7 linked regions of the Homo sapiens genome follow. The protein of the gene in region 5 purifies or fractionates together with the protein of the main gene of each other region. This does not show direct contact. Each region holds a gene or a part of one and is shown on either strand. Other genes may lie near its edges.

Region 1 (2,436 bases), on a different chromosome or scaffold from region 5:
AGACATACAGATCTGGCACAGTTCAAAGTCTGGGGTTCTTATCTCTTGAGTTGCAGTTTTTTTCACAAGCAGAAGTGATGGCTTCCTCATGGGGTTGCTGTGGAGATTAACTGAGAAAATCTTTACCACATAGAAGGGGCTGAGTAAATGTTAATTTCTTGTCTTCTTTCACTATATAATACGGTATCTTACAAATTTTTTATCTCATCTATCAATGTGCTGGTATGATATATACTGTACTTAGCCTCTAACACCTGATTATTAGGTACAAAATATTTGAAAAGAGGTTTGCCTCTTTTTTTTTTAATCCTCAATTTTTTATGTGTCTGAGGGAACCAGTTTCCTTATTTTTCCTGTAGGGAAATGAGGTTCTTAAGAAATCTGCTTAGATGCCGAGCTAAGCAAATGGAATAGACATGAACTTTGTTCGAAAATATGCTATGCAGGTGTAAGTACTCTGAACTGTGTGGTGGCACTTTGTTATATATTCCAAGTTAGACAGTTGTACATCAAGTACGAGTACCTGCGATTTCCAGGGAGAAGCTGATTAATGAGTTCTGTTGAATATTTGCTTTTGTGTGCCTTACTTGCAGACAGCCCCAATGTATATATCTACTTGCCTAACATTTCTGTTTTTAATAATTATAATATTGGAATATAAAACTAGTATGCCATGTGGTATGAAAAATACCATGCGGACAGAACTCTTTGAGATAGCATTACATCTTGTAAGAATAAGAAATAAAACGGATTCGAGCAAAACTAATCTTAAGTAAATTTTTGGTGACATCTGAAATTATATTTTCAGATTTTTGGATACCTTCTAGTGACTCAGCTATTTTTACTTGATTTAAGTAAGTGTATTCCACGTGCCATACAACTAAATCAGCAGTTCAGAAAGCTCAGAACCAACTACTGATTTATCTACAAAGGCAGAATGATCGAGTGCTGACTTTATTGTAATTTTGTTAGTGGTTTGGTCAGTTGATGCCAGAACCAGAACCTACTCTGGAAATAGTTTCATTTTCAGAATTTCCCATGTGAGGCTAAAGTAGAGCCATTAAAAGTAAGATGATGGGAAGCTAAGAGTTGCTTATGCCTTCTTTGTTAAGAATGTATGATGTGAAAGTGAAGCTATATCTCCGGAGTCATGTCACAAGTCATTGTCACAAGTCATTGATTGGACTGTAAATCCTGTAAACACAGTTGGGCAGTAATCTGTAGCCTAGTCCTGTAACCTTTTCAAGTTTTAGAGCTGGACCCCAGCCTGCACATTTTATATATAGGGTTGTTTTGAAGGTGTTACAGTACTTAGTAGACTAAAGTGGCATTCAGTGTTCCTGCCCATGAGAAATACTTTTGATCATTAATTAGCCAAACATCTCTTATCCTTTTTTTTTTTTTTTGAGACGGAGTCTTGCTCTGTCTCCCAGGCTGGAGTGCAGTGGCGCGATCTCGGCTCACTGCAAGCTCCGCCTCCAGGGTTCTCGCCATTCTCCTGCCTCAGCCTCCTGAGTAGCTGGGACTACAGGCGCCCGCCACTGCGCCCGGCTAATTTTTTTTGTATTTTTAGTAGAGACGGGGTTTCACCGTGGTCTCGATCTCCTGACCTCGTGATCCACCCGCCTCGGCCTCCCAAAGTGCTGGGATTACAAGCGTGAGCCACCGCGCCTGGCCTTTTTTTTTTTTTTTTTGAGATGGAGTTTTGCTCTGTCGCCCAGACCGGAGTGCAGCGGTGCGATCTCGGCTCACGGCAACCTCCGCCTTCCGGGTTCAAGCAGTTCTCTGCCTCAGCCTCCCAAGTAGCTGAAATGATGAGGGGCGCCTGCCACCATGCCCGGCTAATTTTTGCATTTTTAGTAGAGACAGGGTTTCACTATCTTGGCCAGGTTGGTCTTGAACTCCTGACCTCAGGTGATCCACCTGCCTCGGCTTCCCAAAGTGCTGGGATTACAGGCGTGAGCCACCGCGCCCAGCCTCTTTTTAATATAGATTAATGAGTATTAGTTTTGTGTTCTTTCTTTTCATTACTTTATTTCTAACTATACTTTCATATTAGATAATGTGGTCTTTGTATGAAATAGTTTTTAATGTATATGTACCAAAGAGGAGTATGGTTTCATGGTTTGAGTTCTAATTTCAATTCTGTAAAAAATAACTACCTTGGAAATGTTGTGTCTGCTAACACATGATAACGTTCTCATTTTTCTTTTCCTTTTTTTAGAAACGTTAAAGGAAATTGATGATGTCTACGAAAAATATAAGAAAGAAGATGATTTAAACCAGAAGAAACGTCTACAGCAGCTTCTCCAGAGAGCACTAATTAATAGTCAAGAATTGGGAGATGAAAAAATACAGATTGTTACACAAATGCTCGAATTGGTGGAAAATCGGGCAAGACAAATGGAGTTACACTCACAGTGTTTCCAAGATCCT
Region 2 (3,500 bases), on a different chromosome or scaffold from region 5:
GGCGGATCATGAGGTCAGGAGATCAAGACCATCCTGGCTAACACGGTGAAACCCCATCTCTACTGAAAATGCAAAAAAAAAAAAAAAAAAAAAAATTAGCCAGGCTTGGTGGCAGGTGCCTGTAGTCCCAGCTACTCGGGAGGCTGAGGCAGGAGAATGGCGTAAACCCAGGAGGCAGAGGTTGCTGTGACCCGAGATTGCGTCACTGCGCTCCATCCTGGGGGGCAGAGCAAGACTCCGTCTCAAAAAAAAGAAAATAAGTAAAAGAAAATGTAATGCAAACTAGAACTACTGTTTCACACTTGGAGATGGTTTTCCAAACTCGAGCTTAACGCTCTTACTTTTGGCCTCCTTTCCACATCTCTTCCCTCATCTTTTTCTGGATGTAAGACTTAATCTCATTGTTTATTTATTATTTTTTTTTCAGGTGGTTAGGGGAAAGCAGAAACACAGTTTGCCCCCAGGCGGGGTTCTCCCTTTCTTTTGACACCTCTGCCTTTCTGAGAAAGGAAAACGCCTACCAGGAGATAGTGTCCAGCTAATGTCACTCCAGCTCTCTCACAGAAGTTTCCTTTTATCTCTCAGATCTTAAGAAGTCAGAGTGCATGGAGCCTGGAGGTGGACCTGCCCTGCCAGTTAGGGTCCTTTGCCTCTTGCCTGCCAACCCTGTGTTTAGACTGACTGCAGGAGTTGGCACAAGACGATTTTAGCCTTAAGGCTAAAAGTTAAGGAACTTTTGGGGAGGGCCTCAATTGGGATGGAGGTTATAGGGTATAACATATGATTCCAGTTTTACTGTGCTTTGCAGCCCAGACCAAAAGTCCACACTGAGCTCTTAAATTGGAAATTCCATGCACAGTTCAGTATAAAAGTAAGCTTGACTCTTCTAGCACAAGGTAGAACTCTAGTTTGGAAATCGATGTGCTGAGCTTTACATTTCTCCTGAAAGGTAAATTCATTCTTCATCTTATCGAAAACTGTAGTTTTGTTTTTTAAAAAAAACAAAAAAACAACTGTTGTTTGGCTTATAGATGAAGGAGATGCCAGCACTTTCAGTAAGATGATACTTTGGTGTAGAATACTGAAAATGTCAGAATTTAGGTGAAGGGACTAGTAGCTAGCAACCTCTTCATTCCAACAACTCTGAGATCCAGAAAGGGGCTAAAAAAGCTTTTGAAAATCCAAGGAGATATGCCCGTCCACACTAAAGGCACAGCACTTTGATGATAGAACATCTCCATCATTACACATTTTTACTTTCTAGACCTGCCATCTGCTTGAGGGATGGATGGGGGCCACCAAGATATAGCAGGGCAGTGACAGCTGATAGCAGACAAGAAACAGATTTTTCAAAGCAGGCGAGACAAAACTCAAAATGTAGCAGGTGAGAGACCAGCCAGGGCTGAGCTTTGGAGGCCCTGAGTGACACAGTAGCTGTGGAGTTAATAGGAGTGATCCTGATTCGTTACTTAGGATCCATTTCTTTGTAAAGCACATGCATGCATGGCCCCTCTGGCCCCCGACCCTGAGTCCTGGGGGACACTGCAGTACACGGCTTGCTGTCATGTTCTTTAGTCAGAGGGACGACACTAAAAAGAGGGTTTCTGCTAGTGATGGATGCTGTAGAGAAAATAGAACAGGGTTGGGGCAGGGCAAGTGTGTCCTCTCTGTGTTAGGTGATTAGGGAAGAGTTTGGAGAGAGTGCCATTTGGGCTGAGATTTGATCATGAAGAGCCAGTTGTGTGAATATCATTGATGAGCATGAGGGCCAAGGAAGCACCGGGAAGTCCCAAGGCAGGGACCGGCTTGGAAAGGAACACCAAGAAGGCCAGTAAAAGAAAGAAAGCCAAGAAGGCCAGTAAAAGAAGAGCCCCAAGAAGGGGCTCGCTAGTGTCCAGTCTTGTAAAGTTTCATTCTGAGTGAATTAGAAAGCCACTGGAGGGTTTATGCAGGAAAAGGAGGTGGGTAGCTGGGGTTCTGTAAGTTAACACATAAAATAATTTATTTTGACTCATCTGCAAGTGTGTGTTCTAGGTAATTTCGCTTTAAAATGGTACTGTGATTCCTCTGAAGTCATTTATTATGCAAATTAAGGACAGCTTGTCAGAACCTCTGGGTTTCTTGTGTCTTGCATTACTAGCTGCAATTCGTATTTTTCCCATATTTAAACATTTTCTTTTTAGTTATGTTCTGTGATATATGGAAGGGAAATGTTCATGTAGTTCAGTCTATGTCTTTCCCTTTCTGATTTTAGTTTTCTCTACCCCAGGTTCACAGTTACTGCCCTGGAGAGATTTTTAAAGGTAACGTTTCCTTCCTAATTCTAGAAAGGGTAGAAATCATCTCAACTTTATTTTTTCCCCAAATAGTATGTGGTCGCAGCACCATGTACCGTTGACTAAGTTCTCATTTCCCTACCAGTTTGAAATGCCATCTTCGTCATGCTCAGAATTCTTGGGTATGTTTCTGGACTTCATGTTTTGTTCCGTTGAACTTTCTGTCTGTTCTTGTGCCAGTACCACCCATTGAAATTATTGGAGGTTGAATAATATTTTAATATCCGGTGGACAAGTTCCCCTTTGTTATTCATCTGCTTCAAACATTTCTTGGCTACACTTACCTTTTCTTGCTGAGAGAGTTTCTGTGCTATTTAGATTTTTTTAATCAACGTTTTGATTAAAAAAAAAAAAAAGCCACACGTATTTTGCTTATTCGTCCATTTTTATGCCCAGAACCTTGAGCTAATCCAACACCTTTTGTTTGTTTTGGTTCTTACCCTCTCTGGGCTGAAGATGGGGAATAGTTTTGTTCTTTTTTTATGTTGTCAGAAGAAAGAGGTGGATGGTTTCCCTTCTTTGCGCCAAGATTGAACAAGGGCACCATTACAGATTAGCATCAGTCTGTAGGGGACTGTGGGAAGAAAGTTTGAGAAGCATTACCTAGAGATATAGGAATCTGATTTCAGGATACTATTATCAGTGAATGATCTCTTCCTAATGCCTTAAATGAAGACGGACTGTTCCTCTACCAACCTTAATGAGATCCTCCTATCTTATAAATCTGAATTCATTTCCTTATTTCTTGAGCTAAGTAAACCATGTTTATCTTGAAACAGTTCAGAGCAGTCCTCACTTTCTTAGATAGAATTCAACTTGGCAAACATTTATACAGAAGGCTTTTCCATGTAAAATCCAAATAATCAACCTGTAAGTGAACTTTTGGAGCACCAAGTCATTTCAGATCGTGAATTTCCTGTAGGAGACTAGGGAACCATGTGGCTCTGAAAATGAGTGTAGTTTTTTATGTCAGGTTCAAGATCTTGAAGCGCTCAAACAATATTCCAGGGATTTCCAGGGATGGCTGTGGCTGTCAATAGCGGATTGATTCCAGGGATAGATGTGGCTGTCAATAGCGGATTGTGCGTGACTGTTTCCATTGCACCGGCAGCTTCACGTTCCCCTGTCTGTTAACTAAGCTGCTCTTTATTAACAGTAGATTCC
Region 3 (3,500 bases), on a different chromosome or scaffold from region 5:
GGAAGTCTTAAACCTGGGACTGAATCCATATCCAGAAGACTGAGTTTTCAAAGAGACTTTTCTGGCCAACATAACTCCTACTCAGGTCAGTCTTCCAGCTATGGTGAGCAAAACTCCGACTCCCATCAGTCTTCAGGCCGCGGCCAATGTGGGTCTGGGTCAGGGCAGTCTCCCAACTATGGCCAACACGGCTCTGGCTCCGGACAGTCTTCCAGCAATGACACACATGGGTCTGGCTCAGGCCAGTCTTCTGGCTTTAGTCAACACAAGTCTAGCTCAGGGCAGTCCTCTGGTTACAGTCAGCATGGATCTGGCTCAGGTCACTCCTCTGGCTACGGACAACACGGCTCTAGGTCAGGACAGTCATCTAGGGGTGAACGACACAGATCTAGCTCAGGTTCGTCTTCCAGCTATGGTCAGCATGGGTCTGGTTCCCGTCAGTCTTTGGGCCACGGCCGACAAGGGTCTGGATCTCGCCAGTCTCCTAGCCACGTCCGACATGGGTCCGGTTCGGGGCACTCCTCCAGCCACGGCCAACACGGGTCTGGCTCAAGTTACTCTTACAGCCGTGGCCATTATGAGTCTGGCTCAGGCCAGACTTCTGGCTTTGGGCAACATGAGTCTGGCTCAGGACAGTCCTCTGGCTATAGTAAGCATGGTTCTGGCTCAGGTCACTCCTCTAGCCAGGGACAACATGGATCTACGTCAGGGCAGGCATCAAGCTCTGGCCAACATGGCTCCAGCTCACGTCAGTCTTCCAGCTATGGTCAGCATGAGTCTGCCTCCCGTCACTCTTCAGGCCGCGGCCAACACAGCTCTGGATCTGGCCAGTCTCCAGGCCACGGCCAGCGTGGGTCTGGGTCAGGGCAGTCTCCCAGCTCCGGCCAACATGGGACTGGCTTTGGTCGATCTTCCAGCAGTGGCCCATATGTGTCTGGTTCAGGCTACTCTTCTGGCTTTGGTCACCACGAGTCTAGCTCAGAGCATTCCTCTGGTTACACTCAGCATGGATCTGGCTCAGGTCACTCCTCCGGCCACGGACAACACGGCTCTAGGTCAGGACAGTCATCTAGGGGTGAACGACAAGGATCTAGTGCAGGTTCATCTTCCAGCTATGGTCAGCATGGGTCTGGCTCCCGTCAATCTTTGGGACACAGCCGACATGGGTCTGGATCTGGCCAGTCTCCTAGCCCTAGCCGTGGCCGACATGAGTCTGGTTCCAGGCAGTCTTCCAGCTATGGCCCACATGGGTATGGCTCAGGGAGGTCTTCAAGCCGTGGCCCATATGAGTCTGGCTCCGGTCACTCTTCTGGCTTAGGTCACCAAGAGTCTCGCTCAGGACAGTCCTCTGGCTACGGTCAACACGGATCTAGCTCGGGTCATTCCTCTACCCATGGGCAACATGGTTCTACATCAGGACAGTCATCGAGCTGTGGCCAACATGGAGCTACCTCAGGTCAGTCTTCCAGCCACGGTCAGCATGGCTCTGGCTCAAGTCAGTCTTCTCGCTATGGCCAACAGGGCTCTGGATCTGGCCAGTCTCCTAGTCGCGGCCGACATGGGTCCGATTTTGGGCACTCTTCCAGCTACGGCCAACATGGGTCTGGCTCCGGTTGGTCTTCAAGCAATGGCCCACATGGGTCTGTCTCAGGCCAGTCTTCCGGCTTTGGTCACAAGTCTGGCTCAGGGCAGTCCTCTGGTTACAGTCAGCATGGATCTGGCTCAAGTCACTCCTCCGGCTACAGAAAACACGGCTCTAGGTCAGGACAGTCATCTAGGAGTGAACAACACGGATCTAGCTCAGGTTTGTCTTCCAGCTATGGTCAGCATGGGTCGGGCTCCCATCAATCTTCGGGCCACGGCCGACAAGGGTCTGGATCTGGCCACTCTCCTAGCCGTGTCCGACATGGGTCCAGTTCAGGGCACTCCTCCAGCCACGGCCAACACGGGTCTGGCACAAGTTGTTCTTCCAGCTGTGGCCATTATGAGTCTGGCTCAGGCCAGGCTTCTGGTTTTGGGCAACACGAGTCTGGCTCAGGACAGGGCTATAGTCAGCATGGTTCTGCCTCAGGTCACTTCTCTAGCCAGGGACGACATGGATCTACGTCAGGGCAGTCATCAAGCTCCGGCCAACATGACTCTAGCTCAGGTCAATCTTCCAGCTATGGTCAGCATGAGTCTGCCTCCCATCACGCTTCGGGCCGCGGCCGACATGGCTCTGGATCTGGCCAGTCTCCAGGCCACGGCCAGCGTGGGTCTGGGTCAGGGCAGTCTCCCAGCTATGGCCGACATGGGTCTGGCTCCGGTCGGTCTTCCAGCAGTGGCCGACATGGGTCTGGCTCAGGCCAGTCTTCTGGCTTTGGTCACAAGTCTAGCTCAGGGCAGTCCTCTGGTTACACTCAGCATGGATCTGGCTCAGGTCACTCCTCCAGCTACGAACAACACGGCTCTAGGTCAGGACAGTCATCTAGGAGCGAACAACATGGATCTAGCTCAGGTTCGTCTTCCAGCTATGGTCAGCATGGGTCTGGCTCCCGTCAGTCTTTGGGCCACGGCCAACATGGGTCTGGATCTGGCCAGTCTCCTAGCCCTAGCCGTGGCCGACATGGGTCTGGTTCCGGGCAGTCTTCCAGCTATGGCCCATATAGGTCTGGCTCAGGGTGGTCTTCAAGCCGTGGCCCATATGAGTCTGGCTCCGGTCACTCTTCTGGCTTAGGTCACCGAGAGTCTCGCTCAGGACAGTCCTCTGGCTACGGTCAACATGGATCTAGCTCAGGTCATTCCTCTACCCATGGGCAACACGGTTCTACATCAGGACAGTCATCGAGCTGTGGCCAACATGGAGCTAGCTCAGGTCAGTCTTCCAGCCACGGTCAGCATGGCTCTGGCTCAAGTCAGTCTTCTGGCTATGGCCGACAGGGCTCTGGATCTGGCCAGTCTCCAGGCCACGGCCAGCGTGGGTCTGGGTCAAGGCAGTCTCCCAGCTACGGCCGACATGGGTCTGGCTCCGGTCGGTCTTCCAGCAGTGGCCAACATGGGTCTGGCTTAGGCGAGTCTTCTGGCTTTGGTCACCACGAGTCTAGCTCAGGGCAGTCCTCTAGTTACAGTCAGCATGGGTCTGGCTCAGGTCACTCCTCTGGCTACGGACAACACGGCTCTAGATCAGGACAGTCATCTAGGGGTGAACGACACGGATCTAGCTCAGGTTCGTCTTCCCACTATGGTCAGCATGGGTCTGGCTCCCGTCAGTCTTCGGGCCACGGCCGACAAGGGTCTGGATCTGGCCATTCCCCTAGCCGCGGCCGACATGGGTCCGGTTTGGGGCACTCCTCCAGCCACGGCCAACATGGGTCTGGCTCAGGTCGTTCTTCCAGCCGTGGCCCATATGAGTCTCGCTCGGGTCACTCTTCTGTCTTTGGTCAACATGAGTCTGGCTCAGGACATTCCTCTGCTTACAGTCAGCATGGTAGTGGCTCAGGGCACTTCTGTAGCCAAGGACA
Region 4 (4,065 bases), on a different chromosome or scaffold from region 5:
CTTGCAGGTTGTGGGACCAAGGGCCTTCGGTTCTTGCAGGCTATTGGCTGGAGGCCATCCTCAGTTCCTTGTCATATGGGCCTCCCCAACATCACCACCACTTCATCAAAGCCAGCAAGAGAGGAGTCTCCTAGCAAGACACACGTTAGACTTTTATGTCACCTTTATTGCACTGTATTGGTTAGAAGCAAGTCCCAGTCCATACACAAGAGGGGATTGCACAAAGGTGTAACTACCAGGTGGCTGAGATAACGGGAGTTACAAATCCCTTCTGGGAGCTGGAAATCATCTTTCCTTGAAGTTTCTAAAAGCCACTGAACGGTTTGAAGCACTAAAGTAATAGCATATTCTTGTTTTAGAAAGAGCACTAGCCAGAAAGTGTCGAGAACAGATTGGTGGTAGAGAAAACCTTAGTTAGGGAATCCAGTTACCAGGCTGCAACGGCAATCCTAGTGAAATGGTGGTGGCCCCAACTAAGGTAATGCTACTGGGAATAGAGAAAGATGGAAACAATTGAGTTATTTAAGATATAATGAATAGGACTTGGTGATAAATAGATGGTGAGATCAAAGAGTTAAGAATATTCAGGCTCTGGTTTGTGCAAATGAGTGAGTGGGCAGTAATGTCATTCACTGAGAAAAGGAGGGCAGTCTAGACACGAAGCTGGAGGTGGATGGGTTAGTCCTCTAACAGAATTGGAGAGACTGAATAACCCTCCCTTGAAAGAACCACCTTTTATGCTACGTTTAAACTAATGCTTATGTCTGCAAAGAACCTATTGCTTAAATTTGTTACAACAGGTTCAATCTTTTCAACTCGTTTTAAATACATGAATTTTAGGATTACAAGTAGTCTGTGGATACAGGAACATCTGACTGAGTGTACAAAGAGGGACCTGCTCTTCCTAAAAACATCCTTCGTATGTTTTGAAAGCAAAAGGATGAGTTCTGGGCGCACAAAATATGGATAAAAGCTATGTATTTTAACGTATCTTACACCGGAGTAATTTGGGTTGAACTCAGCAGCCCTAAGCACTGTGCCACAGGAACTTGTGCAGACAAAGCGCGGGGACGGACCCTGACTCCGGTCCGCGTCTCCGCTGCTCCCTCCCTCCCTTGCCCTGAGGATTAGACACAGGAGATGCTGCCTCATACTCTCGCGAGACGGACGGAGCTCTTCGATCGGCCGATTCTCCCAACCTCACCATGGGTGCTCCCACCTGCGGAGAACCGGAGTCTGGCGATGCCAAGGCGCTTCTGGGAATTGTAGTTCCGGGCGGAATGAGAGCAGCACGCCTGGCTCCGCTCCTTCTTACTCATGCGCGACTCCGAGCTGGCCAAAGAAGTTCGTCCCCTTTGTGAGGCCCGGGATGGGAGGTGAGTTGCTTGTGGTGATGTCTCTCGTCTCGGCTCGGCCTCGGCGGTAGTTCCCCGGGTCGTTCTGTGCCGAGTCGGGGCTAGAGTGCGCGTTTGTTAAAGGGGCCTCGAGGGCAGACCATGAGCCCTGTCCCTTCTCACTCTGGCCTGATCCTCTCCTCGGGGGACGCGGTTGTGCCACGGGCGGGGTGGTCGCGGGGTCCTGGGCCAGTGCCCCGAGCGCGGCAGAATTTGTCCAAACTCCTGATGCCCCAGCGTCACCTCTTCCAGGCGCCCGGTTCCCCCAGGGACAGCTTCAAGCGGTAGGGACAGACATCTGAGGACCCAGCCTCAGGGATGCTGTCCCCGGGCTTCCAGGCTCCAGCGCCGTAGGACTGAGGCAGACTCCACGGTGAGAAAGAGACCCGATCTAACCCAGGCCTTTCATCAGAGCCCAGGAGGGAAGGCAGGAAGTGGGACCACGAGGCCCGGGGGGCTTCTAACTCGTCTGGCCAGGGAGATCTGAATTGGGGTGAAGAGCAGAATCTCCAGAACAAGGAGGAGGTGGTGATCATGGAGACAGATTTGGCTGAAATGCCTGAGAAAGGAGGTGAGAATTGCGGACGTGTTGAACTTGTAGCGTGGAAGGACGAAATTCCTGCTCCTGAAGGGAAAACGGTTGGCTCAGGGGAGGTGGCTCTTGGCTGGCTGTCTCCATTGTCTTGGGGATGGATGGGCTTTTTAAGTGAGACTGAAGAGCTTGGTATGGGAGCACCGCCCTTTCCATGGCAGCTGGGCACACAGTGGACCCTTCAAAGCTACCCCCAAAATGTGAGTGAAATGTTAACTTCTATGGCAAGAATTCACCTCTTTGGTTGTCAAAAATGTTTTGTTTTACATAGGAGAAAACAGGCGTAGTAGTTAATGACTGACTTCCATTCTACCTGACCAGTTTCGTGAAGGTTGTGCTGTGACCTCCTACACCAGAATTCCCCCTGGGGTGGTTGTTAGATTTCTGGATTGTACCCCAGGCTCAACTAATGCTTATTACTTTGAGGTGGGGTCCAGCAATCTACATTATAAATAAGCTTTCAGAGTGAGAACCAACGAGTATAGATTAAGCTGGGAAATTTACTGACATATTCTAATTTCTAGATCAGAGGATGCCATCTTACAGAATGTGTTATGATTATAGCAACTGAATTCGAGCCCAGAGTAGCAATATTCCCGCATATCCCGGGAAGAGGGTCCTGGGAGGAGGTCGGTTGTTTTGGGGGTACCTTCAGTCTCAGTGTTTGTAGGCAGCACATATAGTATGTTGAAGCGGTTTTTAGACTTTAAATCTGAGTGGCACATTAAGCCTAGGTCTCATCATTACTGCTTTCTTGTCGTTAGTTCTGTCTTCCCAGGATTCTCCCCATTTCCAAGAGAAGAGCACAGAAGAGGGAGAAGTGGCTGCTCTGCGCCTCACGGCCAGATCCCAGGTGAGTGAGTCTGCTGATTATTGGAATTACACCTTGTTTCTTAGAGTACAGATGCACTCCCTTCTTTGTGATGTGGAGTTTCTTTATCCACTAAAGCCCATCTGCAGAGCTGAGTTCTAAATCTAAGAGACTAGTCAGGAGACTAATGGACTCAGAAGAAAATGTTTTCTACTTATAACACTGGATGGATTTCTTCCCTATTTAGTGTTTATTGTCCCTCAACAGATAGGTAAGCAGCATTTCCCTTTCTTAGCCTCCTATGCTCATTTCTGTGCTTGGTAATGTGAGAAACTATTTTAAATATAATGTGGCACATACCTCTTAAAACTTGTTTCTCTAGAGGAAACAGCATGTATGTGACTTTAAGTGGCAATCTAAGAAAGCACTTAAATGCTGAAGTGATTGTAAAAATAATAAATACTCACATAGTTCAAAGAAACACTGGAAAAGGAAAGCCTATGAAGGCGTAATTTAAAGAGTTACAGTTAGAATCCAGCCCTCTGAGATGACGAAAGCTAAGGTATGATCATGCCTGCAACTTACTTTTATATTGTTGGCCCCTCTCTCCCAAAAGGTAAATATGACAAATATTACGAATGTTTGGCTGGGCGTGGTGGCTCATGCCCGTAATTCCAGCACTTTGGGAGGCCAAGGCAGGTAGATGACTAGGTCAGGAGATTGAGACCATCCTGGCTAACACGGTGAAACCTCGTCTCTACTAAAAACACAAAAAATTAGCCAGGCATGGTGGCACGCACCTGTAGTCCCAGCTAGTCTGGAGGCTGAGGCAGGAGAATCACTTGAACCTAGGAGGTGGAGGTTGCAGTAAGCCGAGATCGCACCACTGCATTCCGGCCTGGGCAATGAGGGAAACTCTGTCTCAAAAAAAAAAAAAAGAATTTTTGAATTTAGGCGGTGATTGTACTATATCAGTGATTATTGCATTCATCTTTCAACTTTTGTATGTTTGAAACTTTTATTAAAAGAAGTTAGGGCTGGGCACGGTGGCTCATGCCTGTAATCCCAGCACTTTGAGAGGCTAAGGCGGGCAGATCACCTGAGGTCAGGAGTTCAAGACCAGCCTGACCAACATGGTGAAACCTCGTCTTTACTTAAAATACAAAAATTAGCTGGGCGTGGTGGCGCGCACTTGTAATCCCAGCCACTCCGTAGACTGAGGCATGAGAATCACTTGAACCCAGGAGGCAGAGGTTGCAGTGAGCCCA
Region 5 (3,500 bases):
CCTGGGCTCAAGAGATTCACTTCCCTCAGCCTCCCAAAGTGCTGAGATTACAAATATGAGCTACAGCACCCAGCCTACATTTTCTGTACTGATCATTTCTGCTTACATCTCAGATCTTCCATTTTGGATCATTTTTCTCTTTCCTAAAATATATTCTTATGAAATTCCTACAGTAAGGGTTTATTTGTAGTTAAAGTCCTGAATTTTTGCCTGAAAAGTTATATTTTGCCCTTACCCTTAGAAGTTAGTGTTACTGAATATAAAATTCTAGATCGACAGTTATTTTCTCTCTTGAGAATATTGTTCCACTTTCTTCTGCTTCACTTGTTTTATCTTAATTAGTACTTTAGGCGATACGTTTTCTTTCTACTACTTTAAAAATCTTTTTGTCTTTTTTGTGTCTGCTCTAAAGTTTGACTGTGATGTGTCTCCGTATGGACTTTATTTTTTTTATCCCGCATGGGACGTGTTGGCTTTCTGAATCTGAAGATTGGTACCGTCATCAAAACTAGAAAATTCTAGCCATTTTCTATTCAAGTATTGAATCTTCTCCATTCTTTCTTTTCACTGGAACTCCAGTTAGGTTTCCGTTGGTTCTTCTTTCTGTGTTCCGTCTCATCCAACCTTTCTTCCATATTCTCTATCTCTGTGTCTTTCTGCTGCATTTTATGTAGTATCTTCAGGTCCATCTAACAATTCACTAATTTTTCTCTTCAGCTACATTGAGTTTTTTAGGAGACCTTCAGTGTAGATTAATTAATTTATTTTTGAGGCAGGGTCTTGCTATGTTGCCCAGGCTAGTCTTGATCCCCTGGGCTCAAGCGCTTCCTCTTCAGCCTCTTGAGTAGCTGAGATTACAGGTGTGAGCCACCACACTTTGCATTGATGTTTTTAATTTCCAGGATTATATGTTTTATCTCTAGAAGTTCTGTTTAGTGCTTTCCAATATAGCCTGATCTTCCTTTCTAGTATTTTTCAATTCCCTCCTTTATTTAAACATACTAACTTTACATTCTGTAACGAATTATTTCAACATTTATAGTCTTTGCCGTTCAGATTCTATCATTTCTCTGTTCTCTTGTCTCTTTGCTTATGGTGGCTTATTCCCATTGTGTTTAATGTTTTTAATTTTTGTTTTTTTATTATGAACCCATGTTCTTGAAATCTTATCTGTGGAAATTCCTTGTGGCTTGGGTTTAAAGTATGTTCTTTCAGAGAGGATTTGCTTTTAAAACTTCGGTGGGGAGCCTGGGGGACCAGTATACCTGGAGCCACTTGAACGCCCTTAGAGGGTACACAGTAAGCAGGAAGCAGCCAGCATCAACCTTCCTGCTGCTCCCTTCCTGCCTCCCACTGAGTGAGTTTGGGTTCTTGTTCTACTGCGAGGGCAGACGTTCGCTATAGAGAAACTTTGGCTTTCTTCGTTGCCTAGTTGCCTGATTGCTCACACTGCAGGTTACTTTAAAATGTTTTATTTGTGTGTATGTCTCTATGGGTCTCTGAATATCCCTTATTTTCTAGTGAACTCAGCAATGCCTTTAAAACAAGTTACTGTACTTGATCTAGGATCTTTTATATTATAGTCAGAAGAGAACCTTCCAAATGTCTTTCTACCACTTGGCTGGAGGTGGAAGTCTTTGGTCATCTCTTCTCTTCCATGTCTACTTGCAGTTGATTTTCAAAAGAAGCTTTGAACTTGCTCCAGTCCCCTGCTTCTACAATCCCATTAATCCCATCTACTTTTCACATTTGGCAAAAGATCAGAGTCCTCAACTAAATCCCTGGGGAGGACAACTACCCTACATGATATCCTTTAGAATTAGAGCCATTAGTTCCAGAGAGACTCCTAGTGCACCAGGTAAGAGGCAGAGATGACACATGCTCATTATACTGTAGTGGAACCCCTAATTAATTGGTTAAACAAATGAACAAACAAACAAAAAATGGCAGATGGCCATGTCGTAAACCTACACCTTGACTTGTTAGCTGAAAGCCTGCTCATTCTGGGTTTGAACTAATGTGATTTCTCTTTTTATGTTTGATATTTTCCAACTATTTGACAAGAGAATGAGTACCAGGTTTTATCTGAGATGAATAGCACGTGGTTTTGTTGAGCCACATGCTTTAAACTTTTAGAGGCCCAGTAAAATCAGGTGGCTCTGATTTATGCTAATTGCAATATCGTTACACATAAATTCAGCTAAAACTGAAAAATTGCAGGCATTTCGGATGTATCACATGTTCACTTTAATGAATGATTTTTAAGAAAGTGGTTAGAAATTCACCTTCCAACATGTTCAGAATGGCTGGTTTCTTTTAAGCATTTGTTGTCCTGTAATGGCAATCCCTGCGGCGGGAAACATTTGACACCAAGTCAGTGCAGCTGGCTTGCACCATCGTGAATAACATTGCACCAAGTTATTAATAATTGAAGGAGCTTTTCACTTCCTGCTGAGTTTTGTGTGTAACTTATGGATTACATAATCCCAAGCTAAAATCTCAGGGAAGGTTAATTTCATCAAATGAGAAAGAGAGACATTTATATTTTAATTCTCACTCCCTGAAGTTATGTCTGTGTACCTGTTTTCATCCAGAAATATTATCAGTGGATGTATTGGTTTTCTGTCTTCATCACAGTAAACTTCCTTCTTCAGGAGTGACAGGGAGATATTTTGAATTCCTGCTTGAACCATCTTTGAGACTGTCCGGGCCACCCCACTCAACAACCATGGGGCTCTCTGAGCTTCTGTTTTTCTGTGAAATGGGTTAAGTAGGCCAGTGTTCCAATAGGGACTTGGGTCATGGACTCTGTTGGCATGCAGTCTGATTCTAGGTGGTACCGGAAACTCTGCCCCACACAGCATCAAATCAGGGGCTGTGGAATCATTCTCTTTTCTATTCTCCCTTTAATCCATGGGATCTCTTTAAGAAGAAAGTTTCCATTTGGATCCCCCTCTTTAATGCTGCTAATCTCCCTGTTTAAGAAAGAAAGAGACATTCTCAGGCTCGAAACCATTCCTCTTATGATAGTGTGGAGCTCACGTTTAACATCATTGCTTTGGTTCTAGAGTATTTCTCCCCCTCCCTAAAACTTTGATTTAAAAAATGTTCAAACTTAGGAAAAAAGGGAAAGAAAAGCACAATGAATAGCACAGACCCTTCACCTAGATTCACCAGGAATCAGCACTGTGGAGCACTTGCTTTATTTCTCACTCTCCCACTCGTGATTCTCCCCATCTGTGTTCAGAGAGGGATCATGTTCTGCTTAACTGTGGTAGTGACGTGAGTTGTAAGCCCCAAGTTATTTTTTAAAAGAAACATTCAGAACTGAATCCATTTATTAAAAGCTAAATATAGCCCACTTTACTCTTTCAAGTATACTTAGATTTACTATGAAACTGTTTGATGTTAGTTCAGTGGGTGAATTATTTTTGTATTTTACAGTAGTTCCCTCAAATGGCAAAAATTAAAAGGACCATACAACGAGACTTTCATTTTCG
Region 6 (3,500 bases), on a different chromosome or scaffold from region 5:
GGGCACTGGATTCTCCTGATGGACATCAGACAAAAGAGCCACAACTGTGGAATATAGAATTTATTCTGGATATTGTAGCCTTATGAACAAACTACCTGAAAATCATCTAAAATGAGCTGAAATAGTTAAAAGTACAATACAGGATGTAAGACAATTTCATTTAAAACATCCTCTTAGAAAGTTATAAAAGCCTGACATTAAAAAGATATTTTATGCTGGCCAACATGGCAAAACCCTATCTCTACTAAAAATACAAAAAAAAAAAAAAAAAACAAACCAAAAACCAAAAACCACGTTTTTTTGTAATCCCAGCTACTTGGGAGGCTAAGGTGGGAGGATCACCTGAGCCCAAAAGGCAGAGGTTGCAGTGAGCCAAGATTCCGTCACTGCACTCTAGCCTGGGCGAGAGAGGAAGATTGTCTCCAAAAAAAAAAAAAAAAAAAAAAAGGATGGCTGGTGCAGTGGCTTGCACCTGCAATCCTAGCATTTTGAGAGGCCAAGGCAAACAGATCCCTTGAACCCAGGAGTTCAAGACCAGCCTTGGCAACACAGTAAGACTCCATCTCTGCAAAAAATTTTAAAATTAAATGGGCATGGTGGCATGCACCCGTAATCCCAGCTATATTGGAGGCAGAGGGAGGAGGATCACTTAACCCTGGGAGGTCAAGGCTGCAGTGAGCCAAGCCATGATTGTGCCACTGCACTCCAGCTTGGATGACACAGTGAGACTTTGTCTCAAAAAAAAAAAAAAAAGGTGGTTGGGGGCTGAGCACAGCCTGTAATCCTAGCACTTTGGGAAACCAAGGCAGGTGGATCATTTGAAGTCAGGAGTTCCAGGCCAGCCTGACCAACGTGGTGAAACCCCGTCTCTACTAAAAATACAAAAAAATTAGCCGGGCGTGGTGGTACACACCTATAATCTCAGCTACTAGGGAAGATGAGGCAGGAGAATCACTTGAACCCAGGAGATGGGAGGCTGCAGTGAGCTGAGATTGCGCCACTGCACTCCTACCTGGGTAACAAGAGTGAGGCTCCATCTCAAAAAAAAGAAAAAAAAAAGATATTTTAAGTACGGTTCCTAACTTTAAGAACATATAATTTTTCAAAACTGAGGGACAGAGATAGGAGAGATATTTTCCAATGTATGCTCTTTTTCTTTTGGTGTTTTGGTCTACCAGAAGACAATCTATTTAAAAATTTTTTTTAATTAAAAAAAATTTTTTTTTTGAGACAAGGTCTCACTCTGTCTCCCAGGCTGTAACGAAGTCACAGGATATCAGCTCACTGCAGCTTCAAACTCTTGGACTCAAGTGAGCCTCTGCCTCCGCTGCCCAAGCAGCTAAGACTACAGGCACATGCCACCACACCTGGCTAATTCTTTTATTTTTTTATGAAGAAAGAGTTCCACTATGTTGCCTGGTCTGGTCTTGAATACCTGGGATCGAGTGTTCCTCCCACCTCTGGCCTCCCAAAGTGCTGAGATTACAGGTGTGAGCCACTGCACCTGGCCTATTTAAAAATTAAGTATTTAAAAATTCAGTGGAGGCCGGGCGTGGTGGTTCACGCCTGTAATCCCAGCACTTTGGGAGGCCAAGGTGGGGAGATCACTTGAGGTCAGGAGTTCGAGATCAGCCTGTCCAACATGGTGAAACCCTGTCTCTACTAAAAATACAAAAAAATAGCCAGGTGTGATGGTGCACACCTGTAATCCCAGATACTCAGGAGGCTGAGGCCAGAGAATTGCTTGAGCCCGGGAGGTGGAGGTTGGGAGATCCTGCCACTGCACTCCAGCCTGGGGGACAAGAGCAAAACTCTGTGTCAAAAAAAAAAAATTAAGTGGAAAAAAATCAGAGAACAATACTGATGTAATAAAGGAAGAGCTTGTGAAAATATTAACTCATATTTGTCTATAATTTTTCCAAAATAATTTTTTTTCTGAGCATAAAGATAATATTTACTTATGTAGAGAATTTAAATTATTTGGAGTACCATAAACAAAGTAATGTTGCCCCCAAACTTACCCCACAAAGGCACCAACACTTAAAGTTTTGGTGACAGTTCTCGCTTCTTTTAAATTTTGGGTTTTTATTCATTTGACTTTTTTTTCTTGAAGTATGATTTTCATAAAGATAAGTGCACAAATGTTAGCTGTGCAGCTCAATGGACTTTCACAAACTGAATAAACCTGAGTAAATAGCACCCAGCTCAAGATAGAAAACATTATTGGTCCCCCAGAGACCCTTAGTTTGGCCCTATTCTAGCCACTATCCTCCGAAGGAAATCAATCTTCTACCTTGTAACACTATAGATTAGTATTGTCTGTTTTTTAACTTTACGTAAACAGACTTATAACAAATACACCCTATTGTGCTTTGCCTCTTTCACTTACAGGTATGAGATTCATTCACATTAGTGTACACAGCTGTAGATCTTTCATTCTCAATGCTGTATATAGTACGACACACGAGTAACGTACAAATTATCCATTTTACTCTTAAGAGGCACTTTAGTTTTCAGTTTGTTCCTATTTTGAATAGTGCTAGTAATGTTCTTGTACGTGTCTTTTGGTGAACATATGTACCACTTCTACTCAATATATACCTAGGATTAGAACTACTGGGTAGAGAATACTGCATCATTTTTTAAAGGTGAAATGGGGCCGGGCACAGTGGCTCATGTCTATAATCCCAGCACTTTGGGAGGCTGAGGCAGGTGGATCACCTGAGGTCAGGAGTTCAAGACCATCATCCAACATGGTGAAACCCCGTCTCCACAAAAATACAAAAATTAGCTGGGCATGATGGCGGTTGCCTGTAATCCCACCTACTCGGGAGGCTGAGGCGGAAGAATCACTTGAACCCAGGAGGCAGAGGTTGCAGCGAGCCAAGACTGTGCACTCCAGCCTGGGCAACGAAGCAAGACTCTGTCTCAAAAAAAAAGTGAAATGGGATTCTATTGTATAGATGTACTATAGCTTTTAAAATCACTGTATCATTGATGGGCTTTTAGGTTATTTCCAAATTTTTGCTTTTATCAACAATCTTGTCCAATGATCTCTTCAGGAAAAAATTCCTAAAAGTACAAGTGCTGGATGAAAAGAGTGATGTGGCCGGGCGTGGTGGCTCAAGCCTGTAATCCCAGCACTTTGGGAGGCCAAGGCGGGCGGATCACAAAGTCAGGAGTTTGAGACCAGCCTGGACAATATGGTGAAACCCTGTCTCTACTAAAAATACAAAAATTAGCTGGGCATGGTGGCGGGCGCCTATAGTCCCAGCTACTTGGGAGGCCGAGGCAGCAGAATTGCTTGAACCCGGGAGGTGGAGGTTGCAGTGAGTCGAGATCGCGCCACTGCACTACAGCCTGGGCGACAGAACAAGACTCCATCTCAAAAAAAAAAAAAAACAAAAAAACAGAGAGGAAAGAAAAGACTGATATACGTTTTCTTTTTCACTATATATTGACTTTTCTCCCAGGTCATTCAGAATTTTTAAAATTTTGAT
Region 7 (4,005 bases), on a different chromosome or scaffold from region 5:
TTGTTCTTCTTGTCAAAAAGCAGGAGGAAGAGACCAGCCAGGGCCTGGCCACGTACTTTGTGACCTCAGAACACTTACTGCCCCTGACTTGTCTGCTGCAGATGGAGACAGGATTCAACAATGGCCATCCCAGCTCTAAACCACAATTCCATTCTTCTAGACAAAAACTGGGTAGCAAGGATAATTCCCCAGATGACATCAAAAGGCCATGTTGGTGTCACCACCACCTCCAGTGCTAAATTGAAGTCTCAGGGGAAGGACAGTGTGGCGGTTAAGAGGGTCCGGTCTGGACTGATGATCGGGTTCAGGTCCCAAAGCTGGAATCCCTGGTCATGTGACCTTGAGCAAGTCACTCGCCTCTCTGAGCCTCAGGTGCCCTCTGTAACATTAACGCTGCTGATGCCCACCTCTGGGTGACTGTGCAGGCTGCGTGAGCCAAGACCTGGGCCCAGGTGGTGGATGACAGCGTCCTGCTGGGCTCTGACATTTGTCCTTTAGGTTCATGGTCATCCCTCCTTATTCTTTTGGTCCACAAGTGCTCATGGAGATTCCTAAAGATGCAGACAAGGTAGAGCAGATTTTAATTGCTGCGGAATGAATGAATGAATGAAATGAAAGCCCATGCTAAGCACTGTGTAGGCATGCACTTCAACTCATGCTCTTAACAACCTATGAGGAGGAGCTACTATTATCCCCATGCTATAGATGAGGTCATTGGGGCCCAGAGAGGTGAAGTACCTTGCCCAAGGGCACACAGCAAAGCAGTGGCAAAAATAGGATTCAAATCTATTCTCCTGGGTGAATTAATTGATGGAGATGTGTATCTTTGATGTATTTAGGAATAAGGGGTGGGTAAGGCTACTCCTTCCTTTTCCCAAATTGATTATCTGGATTAAACAATTGTTGTAATCCCTCTACAAAGGCTCATCCTATTATAAGCAATAATAATATTAATGGCAACGGCCACTCACATTTATGGAGTGCTTATTCTGCTATATGCACTGTGCTTCTCTCAGCCTGGACCTTCCTTTCTCCAAACCTCAGGAAGCTGGAGTCCCAAGGCTGCCTCCGGGCGGGGCTGTGGTTCAGCAGAAGCCACAAATATTTACCTTGGAGACCTCGGCCTGGTCTGAGGCCTCTGCCTAAAGACAAAGCCTGTGCTGGGGTGTGCAGGATATAAGGTTGGACTTCCAGACCCACTGCCCGGGAGAGGAGAGGAGCGGGCCGAGGACTCCAGCGTGCCCAGGTAAAAGTAGGGAAGGGGCTGAAAGCCAAGGTTGCCAGGAAGGTTCTGAGCTAGAGATACCTGTTGGGGTCAGGTCAGGAGCACAGGGGAGGCTCGCCCTCAGGGAAGGGCCCTCGGTGAGTCAGGATCCGCTGAGGGTCAGGGCCAGGTGTAGAGAGATGCCCAGCTCCCTCGCCCAGAGGACCAAAGGGCAGTGACGAAGGGATGGGGCTGGCTGAGTGTTTTCCTGACCTCTTCCTAGTGACATAAACCCACTCTGCACATACCAGTTGCTCTGTCCCAGCTGTGCTGCGGTGGTGCTGGGACAAAAGAAGCATGAGACGCAGACTCTGTCCCTCAAAGAACTCCCAGTGCAGGACAATGTGGTGCCCAAGGAAGACCCAGGGACATGGGAGTGGAGGACAGTCAAAGAAGGGATCCTGGAAGAGGTGATGTGTTGGTTGCAAAGCCGAGTAGAAGGCGATTGGGCAAAGGAGGAGAGAAAGATATTCCACGAAGGGGAACTAGCAGAAGCAAAGGCTGGGAGAGGAGGTGCCATATGACAGGGGCGTGTGTGGTGCCTGGATCTGGGGGAGGAGAGTCTTTTCCACAGGAGGGAAACAGGGATGCTACCATCCTCGTGGGTCCCTGGGTTTCTCTGATCCAAAGAGGACTGAGCAGTGTGTACAGATAATGCAGGACAGACAGAGTCAAGGTATTTGCAAGGAAAATATGGAGTGGGGCCACAGGGGTGCCTGGATGCCGGGGTTCAGCTCTGTCTTCTGGCTTTGGCTGCAAGGTGTCTCCTTCTGACTCCAATATTAGTAATAATACCTGTCATAATTATCGTGGAAGCTACCATCTACTGAACGCTTGGCCATGCCAGGCCACAAATAGATTGTCTCATTTAATCTTCCCAAAAAGCCTATGACATAAGTACTATAATTATTCCCCATTTTATAGATGAGTAAATGGAGGCTCAGAAAGGGTAAGTCACTTGTCAAAGATCACAGAGCAAGTGGTAGAGGCAGGCCTCCAACTAGGGTTCATCTGGCTGCCAAGCCAATAATATTTTCCCCTCCACCTTCAGGCCTCCTAACACTAACCTTTTCAGCTTAGCAGGCTCAGATTTCCAATTCTTTCGGGGCTTCCAGAGGCTATGCAATTATTCAGCAGCCATTTATTAAGCACCTGGTCTATGCCAACCACTATACTGGATGCCAGGGACACAGCAGGGAGCAGGCAGACCCAGCCCTCCCTCCCAGAGCTCACAGCTTGGTCAGGGAAGCAGAGGCTGAATCATTATTGCAAGGGTCTCAGAAGAGCTCACACTGCTCCAGGGCACAGGAGACACATGTCATCCGGATGCCACATTTGTCTTTGGCAAAAAGAAATCCACATGCTGAACCAAGCGAGGGGCTCAGATCTCTGCAGCGTCTCCCCTCCCTCCAAGCAGGACAGTCCACAGGGGCAGGAGCTTCCATGGGGGGCTGGCAGACAGAGCCAGGGTGCAAGCTGGAGAGCTCAGGACTGGACTACAGATGTTGATGCCACACCCCTGTGGAGGGAGGGGACAGAGCAGCCAAGGGGCCAGAATACCCCCAAGCTCCTCTCCCTGGCATGAGCCACAGGGCCCTTTCTCTCTCTCTCTTTCTCTCTCTCTCTCTCTGCCCTTCTTTTCCTGGCTCCAAGAAGCCATTCAGTCCCTCCCCAGCCCCCTTAGTATTGCAGATTAAGCAAAGAGCTTTTTCACAACTTTGAGTCCTACCTGGCTCCTCATTTCCTTCCTGCCTCCAACCTTCATGTCTTGGGCCCCAGGACAACATTTCTCCAAGTGTGGTCCAGGTTCCCTGTCTGCAGGACAGGGGAAGCTTTATAGGGAAAGTGACAAATCTTGGCAGGGTTTTAAAGGATGAATAGGAGTTCATCAGGGAGATATGGGAGGAGAAAAGCATTCCAGGAAGCAAGGAAGAGCAAGAGCAAAGGCACGGACACAGGAGAGAACACAGTATGTTCTGAGACCTTCCAACTGCTTGGAACTTGCTAGAACAAGGGGAGAGAAAGCAGGAGGTGAGGTCAGCAGACGGTGAACCATAGAGGGTTTTAAGTGTCAGACTGAGGGGTGGGAGACACGGGAAGCAGAAGTTCTTTGTTCTGAGCATTGTTGCTGGATTTTCTGTAAGAAAATAGCTAATACAGGCTGGGCGCGGTGGCTCACGCCTGTAATCCCAGCACTTTGGGAGGCCGAGGTGGGCAGATCACGAGGTCAGGAGATCGAGACCATCCTGGCTAACACGGTGAAACCCCGTCTCTACTAAAAATACAAAAAAAAAAATTAGCCTGGCGCGGTGGTGGGTGTCTGTAGTCCCAACTACTCAGGAGGCTGAGGCAGGAGAATGGTGTGAACTCAGGAGGTGGAGCTTGCAGTGAGCCGAGATGGCACCACTGCACTCCAGCCTGGGTGACAGAGCGAGACTCTGTCTCAAAAAAAAAAAAAAAGAAAGAAAATAGCTAATACATTCCAAGTGCTTACCATGTGAAAGACACCGTGCTAAATGCTTTCCAGATATTAACTCACTTAATCCCTCAACTCTGGGAAGCTGGGGTCATTATCCCCATTTGTCTGATAAGAAAACTGAGGCACAAAGAGGTTACGTTGATTGCCTAAGGCTACACAGCTAGCCCAGGCAGTTAAACACTGCACTCAACAGCCTCTCCTGGACACCGTGCCCCAGGTCACCGGGCATCATGGGCCTGCCCTTGGCCCCTCTGCCTCAGGT

The links.
Region 1: the proteins of FOXN3 (region 5) and ING2 purify together in Homo sapiens (co-immunoprecipitation; one large-scale study listed by IntAct). This does not show direct contact.
Region 2: the proteins of FOXN3 (region 5) and CHSY1 purify together in Homo sapiens (affinity purification with mass spectrometry; one large-scale study listed by BioGRID and IntAct). This does not show direct contact.
Region 3: the proteins of FOXN3 (region 5) and HRNR purify together in Homo sapiens (affinity purification with mass spectrometry; one large-scale study listed by BioGRID and IntAct). This does not show direct contact.
Region 4: the proteins of FOXN3 (region 5) and FOXO3B purify together in Homo sapiens (affinity purification with mass spectrometry, with the first as the bait; one large-scale study listed by BioGRID). This does not show direct contact.
Region 6: the proteins of FOXN3 (region 5) and SAP130 purify together in Homo sapiens (co-immunoprecipitation; one large-scale study listed by IntAct). This does not show direct contact.
Region 7: the proteins of FOXN3 (region 5) and BPIFB1 purify together in Homo sapiens (affinity purification with mass spectrometry; one large-scale study listed by BioGRID and IntAct). This does not show direct contact.

What each region holds. Positions count from the first base shown.
Region 1 is NC_000004.12:183,508,058-183,510,493, forward strand, and holds part of ING2 (inhibitor of growth protein 2), read left to right. Parts: intron 1-2,224; coding exon 2,225-2,436. UniProt on the Homo sapiens protein: Seems to be involved in p53/TP53 activation and p53/TP53-dependent apoptotic pathways, probably by enhancing acetylation of p53/TP53. Component of a mSin3A-like corepressor complex, which is probably involved in deacetylation of nucleosomal histones.
Region 2 is NC_000015.10:101,245,549-101,249,048, reverse strand, and holds part of CHSY1 (chondroitin sulfate synthase 1), read left to right. Parts: intron 1-3,500. UniProt on the Homo sapiens protein: Has both beta-1,3-glucuronic acid and beta-1,4-N-acetylgalactosamine transferase activity. Transfers glucuronic acid (GlcUA) from UDP-GlcUA and N-acetylgalactosamine (GalNAc) from UDP-GalNAc to the non-reducing end of the elongating chondroitin polymer.
Region 3 is NC_000001.11:152,217,694-152,221,193, reverse strand, and holds part of HRNR (hornerin), read left to right. Parts: coding exon 1-3,500. UniProt on the Homo sapiens protein: Component of the epidermal cornified cell envelopes.
Region 4 is NC_000017.11:18,679,515-18,683,579, reverse strand, and holds the start of FOXO3B (forkhead box protein O3B), read left to right. Parts: upstream 1-1,265; 5' UTR 1,266-1,376; intron 1,377-1,646; exon of another isoform or gene 1,647-1,733; 5' UTR 1,734-1,928; coding exon 1,929-1,965; intron 1,966-2,750; coding exon 2,751-2,839; intron 2,840-4,065. UniProt on the Homo sapiens protein: Transcription factor.
Region 5 is NC_000014.9:89,165,734-89,169,233, reverse strand, and holds part of FOXN3 (forkhead box protein N3), read left to right. Parts: intron 1-3,500.
Region 6 is NC_000002.12:128,018,060-128,021,559, forward strand, and holds part of SAP130 (histone deacetylase complex subunit SAP130), read right to left. Parts: intron 1-3,500. UniProt on the Homo sapiens protein: Acts as a transcriptional repressor. May function in the assembly and/or enzymatic activity of the mSin3A corepressor complex or in mediating interactions between the complex and other regulatory complexes.
Region 7 is NC_000020.11:33,282,009-33,286,013, forward strand, and holds the start of BPIFB1 (BPI fold-containing family B member 1 precursor), read left to right. Parts: upstream 1-1,205; 5' UTR 1,206-1,246; intron 1,247-4,005. UniProt on the Homo sapiens protein: May play a role in innate immunity in mouth, nose and lungs. Binds bacterial lipopolysaccharide (LPS) and modulates the cellular responses to LPS.